Regions from separate parts of the Homo sapiens genome. Here regions 1 and 3 are each linked to region 2. The links come from fine-mapping of genetic effects on gene expression. A gene starts in region 2. Each other region holds a variant in brackets. All regions are shown on one strand. Distances are from middle to middle. Region 1 has its middle 31 kb from the start of FBXO48. Region 2 holds the start of FBXO48 (F-box protein 48). Region 3 overlaps APLF (aprataxin and PNKP like factor).

Evidence for each region. PIP is the estimated chance that this variant, and not a neighbour inherited with it, causes the effect.
Region 1: its variant is the best candidate, but not a certain one, in a credible set for the expression of FBXO48 in thyroid (GTEx, PIP 0.62).
Region 3: its variant is the best candidate, but not a certain one, in a credible set for the expression of FBXO48 in whole blood (TOPMed, PIP 0.82).

The regions. Positions count from the first base shown.
Region 1 is chr2:68,434,085-68,438,328 of GRCh38, reverse strand. No RefSeq gene overlaps it. Among named protein-coding and RNA genes, the nearest start is that of FBXO48, 31 kb to the left of the region's middle. The variant T/C (reference allele first, on the strand shown) is at 2,095.
Region 2 is chr2:68,465,031-68,469,238 of GRCh38, reverse strand. FBXO48 (F-box protein 48) reads left to right here and starts at 1,945. Exons shown (of 4, transcript NM_001024680.3): 1 at 1,945-2,028; 2 at 2,769-3,095; 3 at 4,061-4,208. The coding sequence starts at 4,094. APLF (aprataxin and PNKP like factor) reads right to left here and starts at 1,654. Exons shown (of 10, transcript NM_173545.3): 1 at 1,412-1,654. The coding sequence starts at 1,507. RefSeq lists a silencer at 1,370-1,579 and enhancers at 921-1,815, 1,816-2,711, 2,805-2,864.
Region 3 is chr2:68,492,209-68,496,452 of GRCh38, reverse strand. The region is part of intron 2 of APLF (aprataxin and PNKP like factor); the gene reads right to left. Among named protein-coding and RNA genes, the nearest start is that of APLF, 27 kb to the right of the region's middle. The variant G/A (reference allele first, on the strand shown) is at 2,563.

The sequences.
Region 1 (4,244 bases), 31 kb after region 2:
CAAACTGCCATAGAATGTGGCAGACCCATTCTTTACAAGCCTACTTCTATGCATTTTTTTTTTACTGGATTCATGTCCATTTTCTTTGAAATTACTAACAAATCATTTTGTTGGGTGAGTTTTGTGTGTGAATTTTCTTTGCTCTCCTCCCTTCTTATTCCCTTCACAATGTCAAGGAGTTCCTGACGAGGTATTTGATTTCCTTAAATGCAGAAATGCATAAACCCCAAATGCCTCCAGAGGCCAAGGCAGTGACAAACAGGAATAAAACAGACTCGATGAAAGAAAAATCACCTGACGAAAGGCATAACCAGACTTGCCTTATTTTTATGGAACTATGGCACGAGCACATAATCTCACACATATTTATATAACATAGCAAATTTTATTTTGCCAGTGAAATGGAACACAGATTGAAAAATTAAATATTTAGTTATCCTGAATGCTGTGAGAGGTTGTGGTTTTTTTGTTTTGTTTGTTTTGACGCAGTTTTGCTCTTGTTGCCCAGGCTGGAGTGCAATGGCGTGATCTCGGCTCACTGCAACCTCCATCTCCTGGGTTCAAGTGATTGATTCTCCTGCCACAACCTCCCAAGTAGCTGGGATTACAGTTATGCACCACCATGCCCTGCTAATTTTTTTTTTTCTTTTTTTTTTTCTTTTTTTTTTTTTTTTAGTAGAGACAGGATTTCACCATGTTGGTCAGGCTGGTCTCGAACTTCTGACCTCAGGTGATCTGCCCACCTCGGCCCCACAAAGTGCTGGGATTACAGGTGTGAGCCACCGCACCCAGCCAAGGATTATTTTTTTTACACAACCTATATACATACAGAAAAGTGTCATTTCTTTTTAAAACTGATATAAGAGAGCAGGTGTTTCCCCCAAGACTCCAACCTTTGGGTTTCAGCAAGGGAAAAATATTTAATATTCAATCCATTTCAAACCTTAGGCCAATCCAATAACAATGATTAAATATCAGATTTTTGAGGAAAATGCTCAAGTGACTTTGAGCCAGGAGAAGTCATATAACATCCATTCTTCCATCATTGCTATCCCAAGCAGCACAGTATCTGGTGTTACGTCTGCTGGAGTATAATTGGCTGATGGTGTCCCTGGGCTTTCTGCTGGCATCTACTCCTGCCTTTCAGGTGATGCACGCATGGCCTCTTCTCTACAAAACAGTAAGTGTTGGGGGAGGGGGACAGGGTGTGGGAGAGACTGGCATCTCATGCTAATCAGGCCTACCCTTAGCTATTGCCTGGCTATTGACCAAAATCTCTTCCAAGTCCATGTAGTCCCACAGAGCCAGTCGGTCTCCCTCCAATGTCTGCTGTGGGGCAACCCACTCCTCCCAATGGCAGGGGCAATGATAAACCCTCTGCCTTTCAATCTGAAACAAAGAGGCTTGGAGTTTAAATCAGAGCTACTCTCTTCCTGGTCACACCCAGCAGCTGTCTTGGCTGGGCTGGTTCACCCTACATTGACATGGAGCCTCGTCTCCTCCAGAATCTCAAACTGTAAGCAGGGAAAGCCACTCTGTCTCCAAGTTATCTAGCTTCCCACTCTCCACACCATGGCTCAGAGGCTCGAGCACGACACATTGTTATTGGATTGGCCTAGGGTTTTTTCTGTCCCTCCTGATTCTCTCTCCCTGATTTTCCCATAGCACCAGAACAAGGAGGGGCAGGTTTCTGTCACCACCACCCCCTTCTGGCCTCATCACCTGGCATCCCAGCTGGAGCATCTTCTTTACATGAGCTCCACCATCTGAATTTCCAGGTCTGAAAACAGGAAACCCTTTCCCTCCCACCAGTGACTGGATTGTAAGCCTTGCTGTCAAGCTTAAAGAATGTCAGAGTTGGAATATTATCTTCCTCTCACTCTCACGTGGCTTCTGTAACAGATCCGAATCTCTCCCAAGGCTAAGAGTGATTGTCGTTATCTGGAAAGACACAGAAATGCTTCCCTGTTAAACGACATTGTCTTTTTTAAACTTGTTATTTCTTCTATTTGAAGCTAAAACCTCACACATTTTCTTCCTCACCAAGCTATCACTGTCAGGTCTTGTGTTTCTTATTCAGTTTACAACACAGAG[T/C]TGAGCCTTCAATCCTTTACGTAGGAGAGAGATTTATTTTTATACATAGTGAAAACAGCTGATAATAAGTATAGGTACTTCCAAATATGGATACAATCTTTGCACAATGATTTTCATATCTAGGCTAACCACTCTTAAGATATTTATAAAATTCTGCTCTTCTAAAATAACTTTGTTTCTTTTTTGTGATCTCCTTTAACAACTGTTTAGTAACTTCTTGTAGCAATTTTTCCACACTGTCAGTATTAAGTTAGATGGTAAAAAGAATAGTCTTAACTCATTTTCATAAAGTTTGAAATCAGATAATTTTTTGAAATTTAGTCCTCAGCCTCACAAATGTACTTCATACCATGATTTCTATTTTTGGAAACTGACTTCAGTGTAGCAAAATGGGTCAAATTATTTGCCAGTTGATTTCCCTCAAGAAACAATTTCACTAGGAATGAGTGGATTACACAATGTGTTTATATAACCACTTATGAATACCCATGAAAGGGTATGGTCAAAATGTGATGAGTTACAATGTCAATCAAAAAACCAAGTCTTTCATCCAATCTTCCTGGTTGTCCAAGGGAGGTTTTAAAAAAATTGGATGTTTTTAAAATTGACATTTCAAAAAATCCTTTCAACATTTGGCAGGACTAAGTCAACTGCTGCTACAACTTGTTTAGCCAATTGATTAAGGAGTGCATAGAACTGTGTAGGGATTAAGCAATGGGGCCATATTTTGTTTATACTGATACATTCATAGTGCTCTTCATGTTTTATTTTAAGGAGAGATCATTCCTGGTAACTGTAACACTCAGATGCATTATATTCTTACAAAATATTTTGGTTTTGAATTTAAATTTTATAACATGTCCAGCAATAACACCAATCATTGCAGGAGAATCATCATTTTCATTGGTTTATATTAAAAAGTTTGAGACTTCTTGAAACACAGGATTAAGTAGATAAAAAGAGGTCCAAGGACTGAGCTCTGAGTCACTCTATCTCCAGAGATGAAGCCAGCAAAGGGACAGACAAGTGAGACAGAGGGAAACTAGGAAGTAAAGTGAAATGCTGCAAGGAGGAAGGGAGGGACTATTGACATCAAGTGCTGCTCATAGGTCAAATGATGGAACCAGTAGGCCAATTGGCTCTGATGGCTCACTACTCCACCACTCCACTGCTACTTTCATCTCACCCTCAGGCCCTTTTTCTCCCCATCTCCCATGCCCACTGTGCTTTTGCCATACTGATCTTGATGCTCCTCAGGCAGACTCATGCCTCAGGGCCGTGCACTTGCAGTTTCCTCTGTCTAGCATGCTTTTTCCCCAGATGTCAACATGGCTCATTCTCTTCCTTTAGGTTTCTGCTCCAGTGCCATTTTATTAGCAAGGACTTCCCTGTCTAGCCTTGCCAAGAGAACACCACTGGCCACTGACCCTTGACTCTATTCCTATTATCTCACATATTAATGTCATAATATCATTATGACATATTTATAATGTGATAAACATCATAAATAGATAAAGCTATTTGGTAAGAATATCAGCTCAAGGAGGTCAGCAACTAAAATATTGCCTGGCATGTAGTGATTAATTGATAAGTATTTTGAATGCATATCAATTAATTGAATGCAATGAATAAAAACAGCTGATCAGAATATTTTTATGGTAACTAGGTACAGCCTAATTATTAATCTTCCAAGAAGAGTGAATACCCCAACCTTGACTAAAGGACATATTTTTAGAATCTGAAGAACAAACGTCTTGCAAACACTCTCCCCAGCCCTTTTATCTAACAGGAGGTAAATGGCTACCTGAGAGCATTCTTTTCAAAGTTGTAGGTTAGGCCAGGCATGGTGGCTCATGTAATCCCAGCACTTTGGGAGGCTGACGTGGGAGAATGGCTTGAGCCCAGGAGTTTGAGACCAGCCTGAGCAACATGGTGAAACCCTGTCTCTACTCTTGAAAAAAAAAGTAAAAAAACAAAGTTCTAGGGTAGATACTTTCCCATTTTTGAATACCCTGTAGTAACAACTCTTTCTAACGTGTTTAACTTCATTTTGAATGAATTAAAAAGTAAATGCTATATAAGCATTTGTTTGCACACAGATTAATACAAGAATCACACAGTACTAATGCCTACATATTACTTTAAATTTT
Region 2 (4,208 bases):
TCTTAAGTTTCAAACCTACGAATTTAAAAGAAAAATAAAGCCTCCAGACAGTTCCTTCCAGTGTTTGTATAGGCCAACAAACGATGAAAAAAATAGAAATGATGTTAAATATTTAAATAATCACTTGTCCAGTAAAAAAATGAACAGCAATTGAATATCTACTTCCTCAATAACCTTACCACATGCACATGTGCATGTACACAACACACAACACACAACACACACACACACACACACACACACACACACCCCTTTAGGACCAGCTTCCATAATACAATCTTAAACTACCACTCCTTTCCCTGCTCCCAGAAGGGACCTAAGGCAAGTACCAATGGTTCCATTTAGACTCTGGAAGTTAACCAGGACAACAGTACACACTCCTTACTCCTTGGTGTTAGCTCACTGACACAGGTGTCTCCCCGGTCCCAAGAGAAAACTCCTAAAGGGTAGGGACCCATGTTCCATTCATCTTTGTATGCCCCACAGTGCTAGAATCTGCAAAATGTTCTACACAGTGAGCACCAAACAAGAAATGTTGAATGTTAAAGAACAAAATAGAAAACTAGATGTACTTAAGAGATCTATAGAATTCCAGAATGCAATATGCAAATGTTCTTATTCCTAAACCTCTCCCAAAGAAGGTAGAGAATATTTAGCTTTGTGGCATTATGTGTCCAAAAGCTTATGTATGGACTTTAAATAATGTATGTATGGCTCAATTTTCTCATCTGAACAATGAGGATAATAAAAATAGCTAACTGATACGGTCTTGAGACAGTTAAAGATGTTGGTATAGGTAATGTCTCCTTAGACCAATGACACGAACGCTATACACATTACTTATGAAGGGTTAGCTACTCATTTTACTGGAAATAATAAATAATATAAATAAATAAGGTCCACACAGCTCTGCAAAGGAGACCAAAGGTTAAAAGAAATTAGCCTAGAAGACGTAATATCACAGTTTGGCAAACTTTTCTGTAAAGGACCAGACACTACTGTAAATATTTTAGGCTTTACAAGACAAGCCGCAATACCCTCAACCCTTGGAGCAACTATTCCCCCTGAAAAATTAGTAGATTTTTTGTTTACATTTTACATTTCAGAATTTAAGAATCATTCTTAGTTCATGGGGCCATACAAACATAGGCTGGATTTGGCCCCCAGGCACTAGTTTGCCAATCCCTGGATAAGATAATAATGGTAATACAGTCAGTGTTTTAAAAGCAACATAAAGAAATGTTTGTGAATTGGCTTAAAGGTAACTGAAAAACGTGCGGCCCCAAACTTCTAAAATCCGGACCGGCGGACCAGTGCGGTGGGGAAACCGGCCAGGACTAGGGCCGGTCTTCAGGAGCCGGCGCGGAACTCCACGGCTCTCGGGGTCCGCTAAGCCCCCGCCCACACTTACTCCCAGCAGCGGCCCGCGGCCGATCACCGTCTCCCCGGGCGCCAGGGCCACCCGGGGACCGCCGTCCCGCGGCTGCAGCTCGAAGCCCCCGGACATGGCGGGCAAGGATTAGGCCCCTTCGCCAGGAGACTGGCCCCTCCGCTGTTTCCGCCCTCCACAGACACGCGCGGGGCAAGCCCACGCCCTGGGAAAAAACACCGAGGGAGGGCCTCAAAGGCTCCCCGCGGCTGCGCCGGTCCTCTCAGAGCCCGGCCCCAGCGCAGCTTCACGAGTCCCGCCCCTCCACGCCTACTAATGACGCAACCGGGGATTCCCCAGTCTCGCCGCCTCAAAACTACTGTTTAAAAACCCCGGCTTATTCCCCAACACCCTTTTCACCTCCCTCCCATCTTGGAGGACGCCGGGCCTTGTAGTCCTGGTGGCTTTCTTCACTTCCTTTCCCGAGCGGAGACGCCCTGGAAAAAACTACCAATCCCCAAAGGCACTGCGCGCCCCTCTCGGCGCCTGCGCGAGTTCTGAGCAGGGCGGGACTCAGGTGGGCGGGATGCGAAGAGCTATGGGGAAGGATTCGAATTCCGGTGGATTTAAATCGCGGGAGGAGAAGCTACCGCGGCCTAGTAGGTAGAAGGGTCTTCCGTTCCCGTTGGCTTAGGTGTCTACGCTCCCGGGGACGCGGCCTGGACGCAAGCTCAGCCTTCCCTCCGCGGCCTGGAGCCGCAGTGACAGTCAACGCTGACGGTTGTTGTCACTTGTCAGTGCCCTGTGTTCTTGGGTTCCAGCAGCTGCAACCCGCGCGGGACACAAGGAGGGTGGCTCAGACGGGACGTGGGGTGATTAGCCCTGACCCGCGGGATTTGGACGGAGTGGGGCTCCCCGCCCCTCCGACTGCGCTGCCGCCGATCTATCCCTCCGAATGATAGTTGAAAGGGGGACGAGCTTTTACTTCACTTGAGAGAGAATTCAGGAAAGCTCAGTTCATAAAGGAGAAAGGGCAGAAGAGGGGTCGTTTCCAGGCATCCAGGCGAACCTGGACGTAGAAGAAAGATTCCTAGTGGGATTTTAGAAACTCGCAAAGGTATCCCCTGCTGTGAAATTCAAAAGCCTTCATTCCCGTTACAGGAATTCCACAAGGGGACGCATTTTATTCTCCCAGTAAGATCCTGGGAGAAGTGGATAAACACACTGTAACGTTTAAATGCACTGTAACGTTTTCCTAATGTGAGATTCTTTTCAAGAACGTTGTGGTTTGGCTTTGGTTTGTATTGGTGGTGGGAGGGGCCAAGGTGCATGGCAAAAACTTGCTCTTGACTCACCCGTTTTTACGTTTGCTTTCTTACTTCTCCTAACCCTCAAGAAGAAGACCTCTGTTGAACACAGACTGCAGTTCCAGCCACCACAGCTAATCTGGATCATGAATGGGAGCCACCGTGGTCTTGGCAAGTCCGAAAACATAGCTGAGTAGCTCGTCTAGAAAAGAGATTTGTGTTCAGCTGAGTTAAAAGAAGTATTTACCTCAAACCTCTCCTCTTGCACAACCAACCCCCGTTATAAAAGGAAGTGCAAAATGGAATAAACTGATTTTAAGTGAATACAAGCTGTCTTTATATACAAAAGTAACTCAAGGATGGTGATGTACCCAGTCATGCTTTCAACTGATTTGGGAAGCCTACACCATTCACCTTAGGTAAATTAGCTGAAACTGAGCTTTAAATCTGGGCTTCAAAGAGTCACATACTGTACCTAGCTGAGTTCTAAACATTGTTTACAGTTGTCACTCACTGTTGCTTGATGTCTTCAGTGACTATTATCCTTAGCTTGTAATTATGCATGTAGGATAGCTTCAAGGGGCCATTTCTAAAACACTACTCTTATGACTGAGTTGAATATTTGAGACTTTGTTTCATAATCCAGATCTCATCTTCTTGTCCATTTCAGATAGTAGTTGTGTCAAATGTAAGCACCTACCTACCTATAAGATACAAGTAGATAAAATTCTTATATAAACAACTAGAAGTCCAGCAAGTTTATGATTAAGTCACAAATTGCAAATTAATGATGAGGCATCAGTTCCCATGTACAACAAGTATTCAGGAGTTTAATAGGATTGACTCATATACATTTTCAAAGGTACAAAAGTACCGGGTATGGTGGCTCATACCTGTCATCCCAGCACTCTGGGAGGCTGAGGCAGAAGGATTGCTTGAGGACAAGAGTTCAAGACCAGCCTGGACAACATAGCAAGAACCATTTCTCCGTAAAACAGTTTTTGGTTTTCTGTTTTTTTTTTTTTCTTTTTTTTTTTTTTAAAGAGGGGCGGGGTACGCTGAGTCAAGAGAATCGCTTGAGGCTGGAGTTTGAGGCTGCAGTGAGCTATTATGACACATCTGCACTCCAGCCTGGGTGAGAGTGAAACTAACATGTTGGGTGCCTCCCATGTGCAATTCAGATGTAGCAAGACTAGATATTTTACCCACTATCACTGTTAATCCTTGCAAGAACTTTCAGGAGAGCGGCAGCATTGGCCCATTTTACAGATTGAGAAGCTAAAGTCAAGAAAGAGTTCTTAAATTATACCCAAAAAGCATCTGACTTAAAGTAGGATTTATACTCCTATTTGGAGACTGAGCATGTTTAAATTTTGCCTTTTAGGTTACATATGAGGATAACTTAAAACATTAAGCTATGCATAAAAACTCCAAGAGAAACAATAATTTAAGAGTTTCTCACACAGAAGCGAACTCTGTGGATGCTGAGAAGGAAAAAAATGAGAGTCAAAACAACTTTTTTGAACTGCTGC
Region 3 (4,244 bases), 27 kb before region 2:
AAGCAACCACTTGCTAGAGAGATATGTGCACAACTAAAAAAAAAGTCAGGCTGGGCACGGTGGCTCACACCTGTAATCCCAGTACTTTGGGAGGCTGAGGCTGGTGAATCACCTGAGGTCAGGAGCTTGAGACCAGGCTGGCTAACATGGCAAAACCCCATCTCCACTAAAAATACAAAAAAAATTAGCCGGGCGTGGTGACACGCGCCTGTAGTCCCAGCTACTTGGGAGGCTGAGGCAGGAGAACTGCTTGAACCCAGGAGGTGGAGGTTGCAGTGAGCTGAAATCACACCACTACACTCCAGCTTGGGTGACACAGCAAGACTCCATCTCAAAAAACAAAAAACAAACAAACAAAAAAACAAGTTCTAATATCCAAGACAATGGAGAAAAGGCCTCAAATGCATTTCAGAGACCTTCATGGCAGCCCCTCTTATCACAGGCCCAGAGGCCTAAGAGAGAAGAATGATCTCATGGGTTAGTCCCAGGGCCCTGCTGCCCTGCATGGCCTTGGGACAGTGCTATCCATATTCCCACTGCTCTGGCTCCAGCCATGGCTCAAAGGACCCCACATACAGCTTGAGCTGCCATTTTGGAGGATGCAAGCCATAAGCCTTGACAGCTCTCACACGGTGTTAAGCCTGTGGGTACACAGAGTGCAAGAGTGGTGGATTCTTGGCAGCCTCCACCTAGATTTCAGAGGATGCATGGAAAAGCCTGGGTATCCAGGCAGAAGCCTGCTGCAGCGGCAAATCCCTTACAAGAGAACTTCTACTAGGGCAGTGCAGAGAATAAATGTGGGATGGGAGGTCCCACACAGAGTCCCCACTTGGGACACTGCCTAGTAGAGCTGTGAGAAGAGGGCCACCATCCTCTAGACCCAAACATAGTATATCTACCAACTCCAGCCTGTGAGAGCAGCCTCAGAGAATGTACCCTCCAAAGCCAGAGGGGTGGAGCTGCCAAAGGTCTTGGGAGCCCACCCTTGGCATCAGTGTGCCCAGGATATGGACACAGAGTCAAAGATTACTTTGGAGCTTTGAGACTTACTGACTGCCCTAATGGGTTTTGAACTTGTGTTGGGCCTACAGACCCTTTGTTTTGAAACAGGGATGTCTACCCAATGCCTATACCCCCATTGTTTCTTAGAAGTAAATAACTTTTGATTTTACAGGCTCATAAATAGAAGAGACTTGCCTTGTCTCAGGTGAGACTTTGGACTTCTCAGGTAATGCTGGAATGAGTTAAGACTTTGGAGAATTATTGGGAAGGCATGATTGTATCTTGCAATGTGAAAAGGACATGAGATTTGGGACAGGTCAGGGGAAGAATTACACAGTTTGGGTATTTGTCCCCACCTGAAACTCATGTTGAATTGTAATCCACAAATGCTGGAGGTGGGGCCTGGTGGGAAGTATTTTAATCATGGGGGTGGGGATACCTCATGGCTTGGTGCTATCTTCCAAATAGTGCATGAGTTCTCGTGAGACTTAGTAATTTAAAAGTGTGTGGCTTAGCAAAGACATGGAGTCAACCTAAATGCCCATCAATGATAGACTGGAAAAAGAAAATGGGGTATATATATACCATGGAATACTCTGCAGCCATGAAAAGGAACAAGAACATGTCCTTTGAAGGGACATGGATGGAGTTGGAAGCCATTATCCTCAGCAAACTAATGCAGGAACAGAAAACCAAACACTGCATGTTCTCACTTATAAGTGGGAGGTGAATGATGAGAACACATGGACACAGGGTGGGAAACAACACACAATGGGGCCTACTAAAGAGTGGAGGGTGGGAGGAGGGAGAACATCAGGAAGAATAGCTAATGGATGCTGGGCTTAATAGCTGGATAATGGAATAATCTGTGCAGTAAACCACCATGGCACACATTCACCTAGGTAATAAACCTGCACACCCTGTACGTGTATCCCTGAGCTTAAAAGTCGAAGAAAAAAAAAAGTGTGTGGCACCTTCCCCTCACTCCCTCTCCCTTGCTCCTGCTTTCAACATGTGACATGCCTATTTCCCCTTTGCCTTCTGCCATGATTGAAAGTTCCCTAAGGCTTCACCAAAAACCTAGCAGATGATGGCACCATGCTTCCTGTAAAGCTTGCCCATGAGCCAATTAAATCTTTTTTCTTTTCTTTTTTTTTTTTTTTTTTTTTTTTTGAGACGGGGTCTCACTCTGTCTCCTAGGCTGGATTACAGTGGTGCGATCTCAGCTTACTGCTATCTCTGTCCCCCTGGGGTTCAAGCAATTCTCCTGCCTCAGCCTCCCGAGTAACTGAGATTACAGACACCCACCACCACGCCTGGCTAATTTTTTTTTTTTCTCTTTTGGGACGGAGTCTCACTCTGTCACCCAGGCTAGAGTGCAGTGGTGTGGTCTCAGCTCACTGCAAGCTCCGCCTCCTGGGTTCATGCCATTCTCCCGTCTCAGCCTCCTGAGTAGCTGGGACTACAGGCACCCGCCACCACGCCTGGATAATTTCTTGTATTTTTAGTAGAGACGGGGTTTCACCATGTTAGCCAGGATGGTCTCCATCTCCTGACCTC[G/A]TGATCCACCCGCCTCAGCCTCCCAAAGTGCTGGGATTACAGGCGTGAGCCACCGCGCCTGGCCACGCCTGGCTAATTTTTGTATTTTAAGTAGAGACAGGGTTTCACCATGTTGGCCAGGCTGGTCTTGAACTTCTGACCTTAAGTGATCTGCCCGCCTTCACCTCCCAAATTGTTGGGATTACAGGTGTGAGCCACAGCACACAGACTAAATCTTTTTTCTTTATAAATTACCCAGTCTCAGGTATTTCTTTATGTCAATGCATGAATGGCCTAATTACGTGTTCCAATTACATGTGTTTCAAATATCTTCTCCCTGTTGTAGTTATCATTTTCATTATAGTGTCTTTTGATAAACGAAGTTTCTTATTTTTATTTCATTGGCTTTTACCAACTGTTTTTATGGTTCATGCTTTTTATATCCTGTTTAAAAACCCTTCCCTACTCTAAAGTCATAAGGGTTTTTCCCTATATTATATTCTAAGAGTTTTATAGTTTGACTCTCACATTTAATCTACCTGGAGTAGATTTTTGGGTCTGCAGTAGGGATCTAATTTTTTTTTCCAAACAGATAACTGTCCCAGTACCATTTACTGATAAAAACTCCTCTTCCCCACTGATACGCAATGCTAGCCCTGGCCCAGTCAAATTTCCACATACATAAGTCCAAATCTAAGGTTGCTTTCAGTTCTAAAATATTATTCAACTGAAGGCACTAAAACTTCTTGTTAAGACAGATCATCAATTAGTTGTAACTTGAAGAAATTTTTTTAAAGAAAAGACACCCAATGCCAAGAGAATCCTGACTTCAGAAACATAACAACAACAAAAAAATACTACAGAGTTCAAAGAACCTGGGCTCTCATTCCCATTCTAGAATTTGCTGAGTATTTAAGATCAGACGTTCTCCAGAAGGCTATGACATTCTAAGTTGTCAAAAAAAGGTACTCGAAAAAGGATAAAAAAGAGCTACCTTTCTCCCATGTCTAAACATCACATTTATGGGAAAGTTTACAAAATTACACTAAATAATATTTAAAAGATCATAAACAGAGGTATAACTTAAATAAATCATTCCAAATTTTAGTTTTATATCTAGTGGTCATGAGGAATTTTTGCTCTAGCTTCTAGTATTATTTCTACTACAGTTTTGTGCTCAAAAGACACCTGTTAATGTCATACATAGTGGTTTTATGATCTGCGTACCATCTAATTAAAGACCCAGTAAAAGTGAAGAGTATTTTAAAAAGGAGCCTTTTTATAACTGAACACTGCTAAAATCTCACATAGAAATTTGGCTCAGTACATACTGGATAAAATTTAACTCAAGGTAAGATTTTCAACTAATAAAATCACCTTTAATTTGGGCATATTTATTTTACATTATTAGTACTCTTTTTTTGTTTGTTTTTTGAGGCGGAGTCTCGTTCTGTCGCCCAGGCTGGAGTGCAGTGGCACAATCTCGGCTCACTGCAAGCTCCGCCTCCCGGGTTCACGCCATTCTCCTGCCTCAGCCTCCAGAGTAGCTGGGACTACAGGCGCCCACCACCGTGCCCGGCTAATTTTTTGTATTTTTAGTAGAGACGGCGTTTCACCGTGTTAGCCAGGATGGTCTCGATCTCCTGACCTCGTGATCCACCCACCCCGGCCTCCCAAAGTGCTGGGATTACAGACGTGAGCCA